3 separate regions of the Homo sapiens genome follow, and regions 1 and 3 are each linked to region 2. Evidence: fine-mapped expression QTL. A gene starts in region 2. Each other region holds a variant in brackets. All regions are shown on one strand. Distances are from middle to middle.

Region 1 (5,224 bases), 76 kb after region 2:
CTACAGAGCTTGATATTGGGCTTTAAGCAGGAGAGGAGAGAAAGCCCTTTCTGTTCAGGGTGGTCCTTACTTCTTCTCCATAGGGAAAAAAAAAAAAGGAGGGGGAGGCCCTGAGGGGATTGGGGAGAAGGGAAGCAGCTGGCTTGGTTGGGGGCAGAGCAACTGCTAATGGGTTCAGAGCGGCTGGCGCCCACAGAGTCAGCCTGAAAGCCTGTTGTGTGCCACACTTTGCCATCCACAGAGGGGACCGTCCCACTCTTCACGAGCGTGTGCCATATGCTTCATCCCCTGATGAGATAGGCAAACAGAAGTAATGAAATTTAAGAAAGGAGGTGTCTCTGTCAAGTGTGAGGGGCGTCAGGGTGAAGAGAAAGGTGGATGGGAGAGGAGCTAGCCGTGTTGAAGTACCCAACACGGGCCCTATGTGGAAACTGCTTACATTCCTCGGATATTTTCTGATTTCATTATTTTCTCATATTTTCTTTCTTTTTTTTTCCTTTCCTTTTCCTTTTAAGTAAGCAATTAGTTCTGTTCTTTTTGGCCAGTGGTTGCCTAAGGCTGAAAAGCACCCACTGGTTTCATTCCACTGTTTTTGTTTTTCAAGATAGTCTTTCAAGCCAGTCAGAATTTCTGTTTTTAGCTCTTTGCTTGTGGCTTAGCTGCCTGGAGTGTGTTCACACCAGCCTCTGGGGACCCTGTTCCAAATTCAGTGACCCCTGCTAGCTGCGGAGGAACACTCAGTGTTCTCTAAGAGGCCACTTTGGCTTTCCTCTGTAGTGACAATGACATAGGAAGCACCCCCTTACTAGGAGATGGCATGTTTCCTACATTCTCAGGTGCTTTGAACATAGACAGAGTTTTGAGAATGATCAAAGCCCAGCCTTTAAGAACCGAGACAAAAACTCATAGGGCGGGCAGGTATCTAAAGCTGCAGCATTGAATATTGTAGCCATGAGCCATGTGTGGCAATTTTATTTTAATTAATTAAAATGATTACAGCCAAAACTTCGGTTCTGCTGTCCCACCAGCCACATTCCAAGGGCACAGTAGCTACACTGTATTGGTCAGTGCATAGACAGGGCACGTCACTGTATACACGGCATCATCACAGAATGTATTGGACAACACTGCTCCAGTGCTTTGGACACTCACATGAGAGCAACCACCAGGGGCCCTTGATGATTCTTTAGTTCCCTGGTTTTGGTATGAACCAAGAAGCAAGTAATGGAGGGATGTGTCTTCTGTGGGATCCCTTGATGGAGTGTTCAGTGGCTGGTATCTTTATAGCTGTCTCATTCTCCCTCACTAGATAACTACAGTAAAGTAAGCAAGTAACATGGCATTAGATGGTGTAGGAACTATTGCGATTAATCAAAAAGAGCATTGTAAGTAAATATTAATACTAAGTAAGGTCAATAATCATCATCATTGTGATTGTTGTGTCATTTTTATTGTCAGGAATGAGACAAAGAAGATGAGGTAAAGGGTACTAGGCCAGGTCAGCTTCAGAATCCTCCAGTGTGTGTTCCCCCTAAATCTGTGCTCTTTTATTCGTGGGTTGGCCTTGTGAAATCTGATTACAGTATTACTTCAATGACTTTCAATCATGAAAGTGATAGAAAGAAAACAAGCGAAGCTGATATTGAACAGAGCTTTGACTGCCTGGTCAAAGCCTATGGGATTGAGGGAACAGAACCTTTACTCTAGGCTCAAAAACAAGCTCAAATGGGAGTAAGTCGAGAATCTTAATGTTATAAAATACCCAAATTTTACAAACAGTGGCTGGCTATTCCTTCAAATGTAAGAAGTAAGATTGTTAACACCTCACTGGGGCTATTTTGATGCAGACTGAGCCATTGAATGAATTCCGTTAGAGTGGGAGACCTTAGCCATGATTCACGGTGGAGGCGCACACAAGAAGATTAAGTGAAGTGTGGATGGGTATGGTGAGTGGATGGTTGCAGAGAAATCAGAGGAAATAACTGATGAGTGAATTTACTCATAATGGGCTTGATTTTAGACAGTGAGCAAGTGGTGACTGAATTGAAAAGCAACTCTGAGTTCAAAAGATCAGGTGGGACCGATGGCAGCAAACAATCCATTGAATTGCTGTTAGATTGAACTGTCTTCAGAAAGAGGTTGCTGTGGCTTGGCTGGGGCACAGACACTGCAAATCCAGAGACAGAACTTCCTGGGCTCTGGACCATGATAGATAATTAAAGATCAGGAGCAGCTTGGCTAAAAGAAAGCCAATAGTCAAGGAATAATTTCAACTGGAAAAGAAAAGGATAGAGGCCCTTCTTTAAGGAAGGTAGAAAAACATCCCAGGCTTTGCAGAAAAAAATAACAGCAGGAAGAAGCTTTCTTTACCCTTTTTTTTTTTTTCCTGCAAATCATGATTGGTTGAGTCCCCCAGCAGTGTGTGGATTGATAACGAAGGGGCAGAATGACAAGACAGCCTCAATGGCAAAACCTTCATGAAAGCCGGCAGAGTGAAAAAACAGCTCTGGGTAGATTCCTGCAAGGGCTAGGACTGAAACCTTCATGTCCACAAAATGGTCTATTGTAAACCTTGAGAACATCTTGCTAAGTTTATCCAAAGTCAGTGTTTCCCTTAACTGGTTGCTAATTTGAGGACCTTAGCAGAGATAGGCAGACCTTGGAAGGCCAGCTGAGGGCTGACTCATGTTTTAAGC[A/G]TGGACTATGCAAAGAGACTACATCTCCTACAGCACTAAATATTCTTTCAGATGGTCGTTCTAGTAGGAGGGCAAGATGCTAGCCAGGAGATGTGCGTGTTGGACAGATGGTGTGTTTGGCTTTGTGATAGCCAGGAGGATCAAGCTGGTGATTTATTTCAGGGTTTGGTGAGGTGTAGACACAACTGATTCCATTGCTGTTGGGCCAGTCGCAGTCACGTGTTCACATGACACTTAAGCAGCTGAAGCCAGATGCGGCCGTAAATCGCCAGGTGAAATATCAAGAGACCTTTCCAGAGACAGCAGCAGGTTAAAATGCTGAATGGCCCTGTCCTCTGTACTTCCTCTTCACCCTTTTGAACTCCTGTTGTTCATTCCCAGGCGATTGTTTTCCCTGTATCATTGGCAACAACAGATGTTTTGGGTCAAGGACCCAGCGAAATGCCTCCCAAGTATGTCAGGTCCAGGAGGAGAGGAATTGTATCTCTGGGACATTATTTCTTCAATCTCTTTCAGCAATGGAACATATTTCCTTTCCATTGTCTTTTTCTTGGAAGCTGTCCATTGCCGGCATCATAGCCATCAGCTACAAGAACAGGCAGGGCTGGTTCTTAGCTGGTCAGTTGTCACGTTCAGGCGACCTCTTGACAATCCAAAGGGCTTTACCTCAAGGTTCAAGTAAATAAAAAAGTAGCCCCCCGCCCCCACCATACCAGCTCTTTTGACGGTCCAAGTAATCAGTAGCCACTGTATACCTAGAACATCTTCTGTGTCTGACAGTGGTGGGCCATAAATCGGGAGATTCCAGAAGAACAAACTTCAGTTGCAGCACGTGTTTGATCTCAATATCTATGTGTGGGTGCCATGACTTAAAAGAGCTGAAGCATTTATAATAGCTTGGAAGAAGGGTCAGTGGAAAACCAACACTGCCCTAGAAAGTAGACATTTGAACCATGCCCTAGGAAGTAGACATTTGAAGGGGCAAGGGTTCCTAGGGAAGCAAAGACTACGAGTCTTAATTCTTCACAAGTGAAAATGTCTCTAAGTTGGAAAACAGAAATTGGCTATGCTCCATCAGGGGTAGAAGGAGGAAATGTCTCTAAATGACAGCAGGAAAACTTTAAACTGAATTTAAGAAGTTTCTGATGGTTAGGGTTGTAACCTAGAAAACACACTACAGACGTGGCCTATGGAAACTCCTTCTCTGGAGAATTTAAAGCAAAGGGTGGACAGCTGTTCTTGGATGCTTTTGGCACGGTTCCTCCGGGAGGCAGGACTGGCCTGCCCTAAGATCACTTGAGGTCCCACTCTTGTTCCAGGATCATGTAATATTTTATTTCATCTACTGTGAAGCAACACAAAAGACCTGTGGTGATGGAAAACTTGGGGCCGGCTGGTTTCTGGAGAAAGAGCAGATAAGGGGAACCAGTCTTTGTCCAGAGAACATCTTTACTGCCCTCATGCCAAACATACTTCTTTTTGAGTCTTGGATTGGCCTTCCTGGGTTATTGGTGGTCTTTCTATCCTTTTTGTTTCCTAGTAAAATAAAGGCAAGCATAGGAGGGAGTGTGTAGAGTGATATTAATAGTAACAACTTTTCCTGAGCTCTTAATGTGTCCTTGTTACTGTGCAAAGCACTTTACATGGCTCATTCCATTTACTCTTCCCCCAACTCTATGCAGTAAGACTGTCTTTGTATCCATTTTACAGATGGAAAGACTGAGGCTTTAAAAGCTTAGTGAGTTAGGCTGGGAGTCCAATCCAGATGAGAAGCTATGCTGTGGCAGGTTTACTGAGTCCAATGAGGATTCAAATCCTACGTCACTCCAATTCTCTGAGCCTCAGTTTCTTTTTGGTGAAAATGGAGAAGATGGTATTTATTTTGCAGAGCTAGATTTCACAGGGAAGGTGACATCAGGGGAGGCAGGTAAAGCCTCCCGTGTGATCGCGCACAGGCAGCAGGTGTTCAATGTGTTCATTCCTTTCCCCCTGCTCTTCTTCTCCCTTCCTTGGGCTTTTCCTGGTCTGAGTCATTCCTTCATGATGTCCCTGGTTCTAATCAGGCCTCTGTCAGTGACAGGCGCTTTGCAGCTCAGCATCTCTCTGACTGATGTCTACTGCTAATTCCTTAAATTTACATATCATCTTTCTTCCCTGGAGCTCATAGCACTTAACAGACAAGTGGGGCACAAATGATTTAACGAAGTGAAATCCAGAGGCCTGCTCGTCTGGAGATTCTGCAGACTAGTGGATTAGCTCAGATGTCAGCACTGAATTATGATCCTTCAGCTGCTTGTGCTAAGCATGTCACTAGCATTAACTCCCTGGTCTTGCAATGTTCCCCTAAATCATGCATAGAGATTGTCATTTTATCGTGAGAGGGAGATGGGAGAGAAGGAGAAAGGAGAGAAGAGGGGAAGGGGCTACCTGGTGGGGTGGGTCACTGGAAGGGGCAGACTGTGAAACCTTTGGCCTGGCTGTGCCTGGAGTTTCAGTAACAGGAAGGGTAAGTAGAACAGACCCAGATA
Region 2 (5,224 bases):
TCCTTGGAAGTCTTAGGTTAAAACAATTCTAAGCCCTCTCTGGGCCGGTGGGGTCTTGTTCAGAGTAGGCTGGGGAGAGATCGGCCTCACTCTGAATCTTCCCTGGTCTGATAAAGCACTTTGAACTCCTTGGAATTAAAAGCACCACCAGAAGTGTGACCCTGGGTGGTGTTACCATTATTTATTGAGTGCTGCCCCCTAGAGGATTGAAAAATGGTCTGGCCGCTTGAGTCCCCAGGGATGGAAACCTGAGACTCACTCTCTGTCCAACTGCAGGAAATGAGGCCTTCACTCAAGGGGAGTGGGAAGTCTTGCAGCCCTGGTACAGAGGACTCCCAGGAAGTAAGTGAGCGTCCCCTGTAGGACACCGCTGAAAAATGAAAAGTTACAGTGTAGGCAACCAGGCCAGGAACAAAACTGATTCTTACTTTTCTCTACTCTGGAAGCAGCCTGATGGGGACCTTCATCCCTGAGACCCCAAGACCAGAAGTCCAGGGTTGTCATTCTTATGGTTCTCCAGTGGGCTTAGGTTTACCTTTTCTCTCTTCTTTCCCCCTTTCACAGTGCCCTTCACCTAAACCCTGGCTACATTATTCTCACAAACAGGAGTCTCCCACATTGGGCACTGGCAAAAATGGTTTGGCATGCCTGGTGAGTGGTGGGGAGAGGTGATATTAAATGGCCCTCTCTATTCAGGGACTGTCACTACAGATAGCGTTCTTTGTCCTTAGATTAGCATCTTGGCAATGACATAAACCGGGATCTCTGCTTAAGGTTAATAATCCAAACTGCTCTTTTACTTTGTTAAATATTTAAGGCTTGGAGTCATTCTTTACAATTGAGCTTTAAAGAGGAGAAATGTAAATCTGGAGTTTTTAATAATGTGGATGTGCTCTCAAGCCTAGAAAGGAAGGAAGAAGGAAGGAAAGGAGGGAGGAAGAGGAAGGAGGGAGGCAAAGAGGGAATGAAAGGTAGCATTTAGGCTAGCCAAGAGACATGCTCCCTGGAAGAACTCAGAGGCCTCTGTGCTGTGCCTTTCCCAACCAGGCATCTGAGATTAACAGTGTGATACTCAGCCTGTGGATTTCCACTCTAAAATCCCGCGCCACCCCCCAACACAGCTTGGCTCAACTATTTGCAAATCACTTCTGATTCAATTTTGTTTTGGTTATCTCAGTGTAAATAACAGTTAAGTGGGAGTTACAGATTTTTCAAACACTAAAAGTGATAAAGCTAATGGGCAAGTCCAGATAAGGAGGGAAACCACCCAGAAGAATCCACAAGTACAAGCCAAGAAGAAAATGGGTAGTCAGGTGTGTGTTTCTCGTCACCGAAACTGTATTTTTCTTAATCTACAGAAAATTTTACTTTCTTAATTTAAAAAAAATCTTAATCTGTAAATATTTTTCTGAATTTTCTTATTTTTCATATACCTCTTTTGTGGCAGAAAAGGTGTACATGTGCAGGGTGTAATTTAGGCTGTTTCTGTTGCAGTCTTTATGATAATGTAGTAATAGGTGTCTGGTGAAGCAAGACAGTTTGGAATCCACAAAGCCATCCTCAGAAACAAAGATACAAGTGTTTCCCCAACTGTTAGCTTGCAGTTCCCTCTAAACAGTTTTCACGCCTCCATTTAAAAATAGTTGGCATAATGATGTTTTCTTTCTCTAGGCTTTGTGACCACGTTTCCATGGGGGAAAATGTGAATAGACGTAGTTACAGTAGCATTTGGATGAGACGCCTTCAAGCACCTATACTTTTTCGGGGGAACTTGATGGAATCCAATTTAATTACCTGAAGAAATTATTTGCTGAAGAAAGTCTTTCCTCTTTTTAGGGTAGTTACAGTTAAAGGCGCAGGGGTAACGAAATCCTAACCCAGAGAGGAGCAGAGCATGTTTGGGACATAACAAAGGATCTGAGTAGTAAACGCAGCGAGTGTTTGGGGTTTTATTCAGACCGGGCTGACGGTGTGTGTCGCCGCCACGCACCGCTGCCTGTTCGAACGCATGGCTGAGCTGCCGACCGGCTCGCTACCCCAAACACCGTACGCCACCCAACTCCTCTTGTAACGCCATCGCGCGTGGCATTGTGTTGGGTTCTGCGTGTGTGGCATCGGAGTCGTGGAATTTAGGGGGAACAAGGCTTTTCCCCCCGTCCCCCCGGGGTCTCCCTTGGGTGGGGGCGACACGGCCAAGGCGGCGCGCCCTGGGGGTGCCCGGGGGCGCTTCTTCCCCAGGGCGTTACGCACCGGCGGCCCGGCGCGGAGGTGCGCGGGGGCGATCGGGAGATGCGGGGCGGGCGAGGGGTGGTGGGATGGGCGCCGCCTTAACTTCGATCCTGCGGCGGCCCGAGAGAAGCCGTCGCCGCCCCGCCCGAGCTGGGTGCCGCGGCACTCTGCTCTGCGCCGCGCGTCTCCGCGGCTGCCTCTTTAATCAGGAACACAGAAGGGGCGGGCCCTGAGCCGGCGCGTAATCGGATAGCTCTGCCGCGGCTCTGACATCCACATGCTGCTCGGCCTGAAAAGGCAGTGGGGAGCCGGAGGGGAGGCAGAGATCGCGAGCGAGGCACCAGCCTGCAGCCGGCCCCCAGCACATCCTCAGCCGCACAGACACTCGGCGAGGTGGAGGTGAGGGCGGGCGCCAGCGAACTCGGAGAGGGGCTCGCTCACTCCCAGGCGATCCCAGCCGCCACCGCCGCCGCACCAGCAGCAGCAACAGCAGCAGCAGCTTCCTTCCTCAGACTCCCCTCGAGAGGCTGGCCAAGCGGGTGTAGCCGTTGGGGGAGGCTCCCGCCGGGGGAACCCGGCGAGGACAAGAGCAGGGCGGCCGCCTTCCACTCGGGCTGTCCGGCGGCGGCTGCCTCCGCCCGTGTGTCCGTCAAGGGTGCCGCGGGATGTGTGTCAGTTTACGCCTCTGAGATCACACAGCTGCCTGGGGGCCGTGTGATGCCCAAGGCAAGTCTTGGTTTTAATTATTATTATTATCATTATTGTTACGCTTGGCTTTCGGGAAATACTCGTGATATTTGTAGGATAAAGGAAATGACACTTTGAGGAACTGGAGAGAACATATATGCGTTTTGTTTTTAAGAGGAAAACCGTGTTCTCTTCCCGGCTTGTTCCCTCTTTGCTGATTTCAGGAGCTACTCTCCTCCTGGTGAGGTGGAAATTCCAGCAAGAATAGAGGTGAAGACAAGCCACCAGGACTCAGGAGGGAAACGCTGACCATTAGAAACCTCTGCATAAGACGTTGTAAGGAGGAAAATAAAAGAGAGAAAAACACAAAGATTTAAACAAGAAACCTACGAACCCAGCTCTGGAAAGAGCCACCTTCTCCAAAATGGATATGTTTCCTCTCACCTGGGTTTTCTTAGCCCTCTACTTTTCAAGACACCAAGTGAGAGGCCAACCAGGTAAGCCACTGAAAGTTTTTCTATTTATTGCAACATGGTTTCCCCTTTAAAAGTGACCGCTAAAGCAGGAAGGCCACGCAGAACGGCACAGAAGAAGGCTCCCTCAGTACTCAATAATTTAAAGAGAGATCCCAGCCGGCCCTTCCTACACCACCACGGCTGCTAAAACCCAACTTTCCTCTCCTGCTAGGAGTGTGTGTGTGTGTGTGTGTGTGTGTGTGTGAGTGTGTTTTGAAACAGAATTTGGCGGTGTTCATATGTCACATATGGACTGAATCAAAGGTTTAAAAATACTACAAAGCCTTTGCATTACAGTTTTTGGGAATTTTTTTTCCCTGTCTTGAAGCAGAACACATCTCCCTTGAGTTTCTCCAACTAGCCAGTGAAATATAAATCATTTGCATTCCCTCCACTTAGCTACATTGAGCAATGTTAACTGAAGGGCTTGGGAAAGACAAGAGTTTAGTTTTGGTTTTCAGATGCTGTAGATTCTTTGGAGAATGACTGGTTATGCTTCAGAATCATAAGGCTCAGGCTGGTGGAGCAAGTTGGCTTGTGGCTGAGATAGGGGCTTGGGGTTGGGTGCTGCTGGCAACCAAGACGGTTGGTCTCTTCTCTCTTCATCCATGTGTTGTCTGGGAAAGTAAATCGTACGTTCTTTTAGAAATTATTATTAGCTAAAACAAATTGCAGGCCCTCGAAGGTCTCTCACTCTTGTGAAGTGGTTAGAAACTTTTGAGTGGAATTTGTTCTCAACCACTGCCAAAAAGGGTGTGTGGACAGGCTGCTGTGGAGATAAGCATTTCGAGGCCCAGAACAGTCTGGGGACCGCATTTGTGGGGAGCGGCAAGGGGTATGCTCTGGAAAGGGGAATCCATGGGGAATGCAGTGGGGTTTGTGCTTCCTTCTCGGACCACTCTCTAGAGTGAGCCTCCCTACCCCTCTGAGAACAGTGTCTGGAATCTAACAACAAAACTCTTAGCAGCTGCTACAGGTGATTGGAGATGGAGAAACCATCTATGGAGGAAATGGGTGAAAGAAAGGCGAAAAAGCCTTCCTGAAGTGCCCTCACCCAAGGCACTTGCAAGGCGATGGCGGCAGTGGTAGAGCTAACTCTGCAGCCTCCTTGGCATCCCCAGAACATCAGCTAGTGGATCCTAGCCTTGCATCTGGTACTGTCACCCTTCCTTCTCCTCACGCCCCCCACCAGCACACACACCACTTTAAGCTTGGGCATTTATTTGAGGGGGGAAGAAAATTCAGGAATGCCTTTGCCACCCAGATCCGCACGTTTGCAGCTCTTTCTTTGCCATAAGTGGTCTTCAGGGCAGCTGCAAATCCTGCCAAAGGGATGGGTGGGGGTCCCACTTGGGGAGATTTTCTGGGCCTCCGCCGTTCCCCCTTGCCTTATTTCTAAATTCCCAGCTTGAAGCGGAATTAAATTACCACTCACAGACCTGGATGCTGCGTAAATTATGTATGTTTGTGTGATTCGCTGTGTGTGTGTGCACACGCGCGCGCGCCGTGAGGATGCCCACAGTATATTATGTATTCAGACACGGACTCCAGTAGGCCCCAGCGCGCGAGCGCGCACACACTGGCACTCACACTGGCGCGCACACACATGCAACTTCAGGTTCCGTGTGCTGTGCGGAGCGGGAGGGGTCGTGAAGACTCAGGGGCCATCTCCTACCCCAGATGTTCGCACATCTGTCCCCGAGCGCTGCTTGGAGTGTGTGTACGTGTGTGCGCGACACCCGCTTGGACCCACTCCCGCTCTGCCACCTGCCTGCCGCGCTCTCTGCAGAACC
Region 3 (5,224 bases), 63 kb after region 2:
TCCTTCTACTTGGCAAAACAATTACTAGGAAATAATTCAATGTTTAGCTCAGTTCCCCTGTTCTCAGTGTCCCTGATAGGGTCAGTGGGGACTAGTGTCATCGACAGGGATGTGCAGACACACATTCTGAGAGTCCTTGGTTAGAGCTGTAAGCACAAATAGTTAATGGCCATTGGATACTTAAATATGCCAGGCACCATCCTGTGAGCTCTTAGTAACTAACAGAATCCTTGCAACAGCCCTCAAGAGGTAGGCACCTCTATTAGCTCCCCTTTAGATCTAAGGAAACTGAGGCAAAGAGCAATTAAATAATTTGCCCAAGGCCCTCTGACTAGTAAGTGGCAGAGTGAACATGAACACAGGCAGTCTAGCTCTGAGTCCAGGCTCTTAACCACAGTGCTGTACACATTCACCATGCAAAGAAATTAGTGCTGACTTAGTATTTGACAGTTGGGCTCTTTTGCAGCTCCCTTCTTATAGCGGGTGGTCCCTGGTTAGCAGGTGTCAGCCATGACCTCTTGTATCTTCCTCTCCTCTCTGCAGATGCTCCCTGCTCCAACATGCTGGGGATGCTCTCAGGCCTCATTGCAGACTCCCAGATCTCCGCCTCTTCCACCCAGGAATACCTCTGGAGCCCCAGTGCAGCCCGCCTGGTTAGCAGCCGCTCGGGCTGGTTCCCTCGAATCCCTCAGGCCCAGCCCGGTGAGGAGTGGCTTCAGGTAGATCTGGGAACACCCAAGACAGTGAAAGGTGTCATCATCCAGGGAGCCCGCGGAGGAGACAGTATCACTGCTGTGGAAGCCAGAGCATTTGTGCGCAAGTTCAAAGTCTCCTACAGCCTAAACGGCAAGGACTGGGAATACATTCAGGACCCCAGGACCCAGCAGCCAAAGGTAGGCTGTTCTTGGAGGCCTCTGTAACGTTACCCTCAACAGGGAGGCTAAGTGTGGTACAGGGAGTTGAGACTGATGATGTCCCATCTAAACAGTCGTCATCCAACTCCTGAAATCCAATAAAACAAATATCGTTTGAGAGATTACTTTGTGCCAGGCACTGTGCTAAATACCTTATTTCTGACTCTTTTGTTTGTTTGTTTGTTTGTTTTTGAGATGGAGTCTCTGTCACCCAGGCTGGAGTGCAGTGGCCTGTTCTCGGCTCACTGCAACCTCCGCCTCCAGGGTTCAAGCGATTCTCCAGCCTCAGCCTCCTGAGTGGCTGGGATTACAGGTGCCCGCCACCACACCTAGCTAATTTTTGTATTTCTGGTAGAGATGGGGTTTCACCGTATTGGTCAGGCTGGTCTCGAACTCCTGACCTCAAGTGATCCACTTGCCTTGGCCTCTCAAAGTGCTGGGATTATAGGCATGAACCACCGCGCCCGGCCTGGACTCTTTTTTAATCGTTACAACATCTGTGCAAAGTAGATCTTTTTGTCACTCCCATTTTAGAGATGATAAACTGACACTTGATATCATGCCCAGGGTCACACAGTTCACCTGTGATAGAGCCGATTCAGAAACCGGAAGTCTGACTCCAAAGTCCAGATGCCTAACCCCTACTGAACACTGCCTTTTTATAAAGTTCAACACTCTTTATACACTCTTTCAGATAAAGTTTCCTTGAAATTGGCCAGACATCTAAAGGGGATGTGGTTTTTGGAGGCCAAGCTATAGAAACTAGAGGATGACTTCCAAAAATAACGATGTTTTTCTGAATGTCGCTGCATTCCTTTGTATTCTCCTAGTTTTGACTGCTTAGATCTTTCCGGCCTCTCAGACTGAGGCAAGGGAGAAGCAAGAGAAACTCACCCCGAGCCAGAAGCTCAGGCCAGTACAGCTTACTCCCCTGCCACCAGAGTGAAGGTCAGCCTTCAACACAGACACAAGGAGCCCCAGAAGGGGAGGAGACGTCATACCTCTGTCCCTCCCCAGATCAGTCTCCTGGCAGGCCAGGCTCTCTGATTCTTATCTCTAGTTACCCCTTGTTTTTCTCAAAAGAACAGGTCCCTAAAAAAGGAGGGAGTTTGCATGTCTCGGGGCCACCTTTGCTAAGCAAATGTCTCCATTCTGAATACAGAGGCAAGAGTTGGGTTGGAGGTTTTGCGATGCTGAGGTAAACTCCCAGCTCTCAACTCCAGAGGCTTAGAAAGGCTCAGGGCTTGGTAACTGGAACCTTGCATCGATGGAGCAGAAGTTGGACCGCAGGCTTCCCCATGGAGAGCTGAGCCTGGTTTTTCTTGGGAAAGAAGTTGATCTTTGCCATTGTGGGAGACAGCCCTATCCGAGACAGTGCTTCTGGTTCAGAATTGTGGACGCAGGGCATCCTGAAAACTGGAGCGGTCCTGCTGAATTTCTGGGGGCTAATCAGCTGCAGGCCCTGGCCACCCACTCCTGTCCTTCCCCCGGATGAGTGTCTCCAAGTGTACTCTAGGCTGGTCCTCCAAAGCAGCCCCCTGCTCCCCGCATCATCAGTTTTATGTACTGGGGCTCCATGTGAGGTTTCTTTTGACAGGAGTGCTTTCCCTAAACAAAGGTTTGGGAAACAGTCTAAGACTATCGATGTGTGACCAGAAGACAGTGTCATTGGCCTAGGGGTCATTTTCCCGTAAGGTTCTCAGTGAGCTAGGAACTATCAGTCAGCTTGGGTTACCTCAATGGAGGCTTTCAC[A/G]CATTAGAAAAAGAAGTGTTCCTTTCCCTGTAGACCAGGAATTCAGAACGGTCAAAGATCGCCCAAACTGCCTTCCCCCCTCTCTAGCCAAAGTCAGCTGAAAACGCAGTTGGAGCCAAATTCTTCCCCAGATACTCCATTTTAGTCACCAGGTAAAAGACACAACCTGGAAATTGCCACCTTTGTTTACTTCCTATTTTCCATAATTCTGGGTCCATAACCACCTTCCAAATGAATAAAATCCTTGGTCTGAAAATGAAGCTCGCGTGGATCAGAATGTCCCAGTGACCAGGAATCAACTAGGAAGCTGCCTTCCTAGCAGGACGTGCGGGGCAGGGAGGAGAAGGGGAAGGAAAGGGAAGAAGGTGATAGGGACTGGGTCCCACACCAGAAGGGCTGAGTGGCCTCTCTCCCTGCAGCTGTTCGAAGGGAACATGCACTATGACACCCCTGACATCCGAAGGTTTGACCCCATTCCGGCACAGTATGTGCGGGTATACCCGGAGAGGTGGTCGCCGGCGGGGATTGGGATGCGGCTGGAGGTGCTGGGCTGTGACTGGACAGGTAAGATGACATTTCCTCCTCTTTGCATCTCACCCACATGGTCCTCTGACCCTGGCATCCCACGAGGCCCTGGGAGGGCTGTGGAGGGGGCAGCCATCCCAGGAGCTGGAAATGCTGCAGACCCCTGCCATGTTCTCCTGCCTCAGACCACGGGTACTGCAGCCTCTGGACTTGGGACAGTTTCTCAAGGGATGTACTTTGTCTTTTTTAAGGGATCATTTCAGTTCTCCAACCCGAGTCTCTCAAAAACAAATCATAACCACACACCACCCACCCAAATTCAATTAGACCCTGGCTCTTCAGGCCAGAGGGCTGTGGCTGTTGATTTAGGGAAGAAAAAAACCCCTCATGATAATAAAGTAATCGGTTTATGTCTGAATCTGGCCTCCAGATGTCAGTGGCTAAGAGACTTCATTTTCATTTCGGAGCCACATCTGTAAAAGGCATTTATTTGCTCAGGAGGGACCCTGTTGCAGGGAGCTGATGGGGGCAGGACTCCTTCTCATTGTCCTGCTCATTCCTGCCAGGTGGCCCAGGCCTTGGGGAACACCTCTCATCATTCCAAATGAGGGTGAGGCCCACGGAGGGTGCCCAGCCTTCCTGGTTTCCGAGGGAGGGCCCTGCCCTTCTGAGTCAGGCCCTACCTTCCTTTCCTTGGGTCGCCAGCCCTCCTCCCTCAGCAGAGCTGGCACCAGATCTTACCCAGAGCTCACTCACTGCCTGCCAAAAGGAGTTTGTGGGAGCCACTGGGGCTCAGGGACTGAGCCTGATGCCAGCAGGAGCAGCCACCAGCCTGAGCTATCCTGCCCTCCTCCGCCAGAGCCCCAGGTATCCCCATTTTCCTGTCTGTGCCGTACCTGTCACGGGCTCAGCCGGCAGGATGGCATGAGGGATTAATAAGGGCATGTCGGAGAAGTGCTTTTGGCTCCCAGGGAGAAAAATGCTGCCTGTATGCTGGCTACAGCAGCGCAGAGGAGCCCTGTTGAGGCACACGGGCTGGGAATTGGGCCCAAATTAGCCTCCTCACTTTTGAATTGAAGGCAGCCCCAGCGAACACATCTTCATAGGAAGACACTTAACTCCCCATTACCTGGGGATGAGGCCAAAGTTCCCTGCAGCCTGCTAAACGTGTGTCACCCGTCCTCTCACAGGTGCAGAAAACCTCCCCCCGATACAAGCTGGCTTCATTTATGTGCCCTGGAATCAGGGGCTCAGCGCTGTAGGGGATCCAGGAGCTTGTAAGCCAGTGGCTTTCACACACTTCTGCCCATGATACACAATTTAAAATAATTTTCCTTCACAACCCGCTTCACTTATAAGCACTCACACACAGTGGTGTATACGGGGTACAGTGTATGGGTAAGTGCTTGGACTCTGGAGACAGATTGCCAAGTTCAAGTCCTGCCCCTGCCATTGGCTGGCTGCATAACCTCAGAAAAGTTAGTCTCTCAGCGCCTTGGTTATCTTAGCTGAAAAATGGAGAGGACAATAGTCTGTCTACCCCATAGGGTCATTGTGAGGATTAAATGAATGAATGGATGTGAAATACTTAGACTACTGCCTGCACCCAGCAAACCTGTTATGATAAATAACTGTAACTGAAACAAAAGGTTCCCAAAGCAATGGTCATCTTAACCATGGAAGTGCACTCCAAAATATTATAGTCGGTATGTTTTAAAAGCTGGTCATGACCTATTCGACGGATTCCACAACCCAATGATGAGAGTGATGCGTGGTTTGGGAAATATCACAGACCTGGGCCAATTCCTCTTTCATAGACAAGGAAACAGCCCCAGAAGGTAGAAGTCACTTGCCAGAGGTCACTCAGCTGGATGAAGTCCACCTCATTCTTCCCCCCATCCCTTGCCCTTCAGTGCCATGCCCTCCCAGTCTGGCCAGTGGGACAGTTGCTAATGACCTCTTTCCTTCATTGCTCCCCAATCCCAACATGCCCCAAATTACACTGGTGATGGTCAGTGACAGGTTTCTTATT

Direction of the effects. Positions count from the first base shown, and alleles are read on the strand shown. Sizes are in standard deviations (SD) of each study's normalised expression.
As copies of G replace A in region 1, the expression in aorta of the gene that starts at base 2,551 in region 2 goes down (large effect, 0.81 SD a copy in GTEx).
For the expression in monocytes after LPS of the gene that starts at base 2,551 in region 2, allele G in region 3 goes with a lower level than allele A (moderate effect, 0.71 SD a copy in Fairfax 2014).

Evidence for each region. PIP is the estimated chance that this variant, and not a neighbour inherited with it, causes the effect.
Region 1: its variant is fine-mapped to the expression of NRP2 in aorta (GTEx, PIP above 0.99). The same link has a PIP of 0.9 or more in tibial artery.
Region 3: its variant is fine-mapped to the expression of NRP2 in monocytes after LPS (Fairfax 2014, PIP 0.95).

Annotation. Positions count from the first base shown.
Region 1 is chr2:205,755,526-205,760,749 of GRCh38, forward strand. All of the region lies in intron 12 of NRP2 (neuropilin 2), which reads left to right. Among named protein-coding and RNA genes, the nearest start is that of NRP2, 76 kb to the left of the region's middle. The variant A/G (reference allele first, on the strand shown) is at 2,697.
Region 2 is chr2:205,679,951-205,685,174 of GRCh38, forward strand. NRP2 (neuropilin 2) reads left to right here and starts at 2,551. Exons shown (of 17, transcript NM_003872.3): 1 at 2,551-3,413. The coding sequence starts at 3,341. RefSeq lists a silencer at 1,952-2,071 and an enhancer at 4,546-5,176.
Region 3 is chr2:205,742,660-205,747,883 of GRCh38, forward strand. It overlaps NRP2 (neuropilin 2), which reads left to right. Exons shown (of 17, transcript NM_003872.3): 9 at 544-893; 10 at 3,087-3,231. Among named protein-coding and RNA genes, the nearest start is that of NRP2, 63 kb to the left of the region's middle. RefSeq lists an enhancer at 3,978-4,529. The variant A/G (reference allele first, on the strand shown) is at 2,668.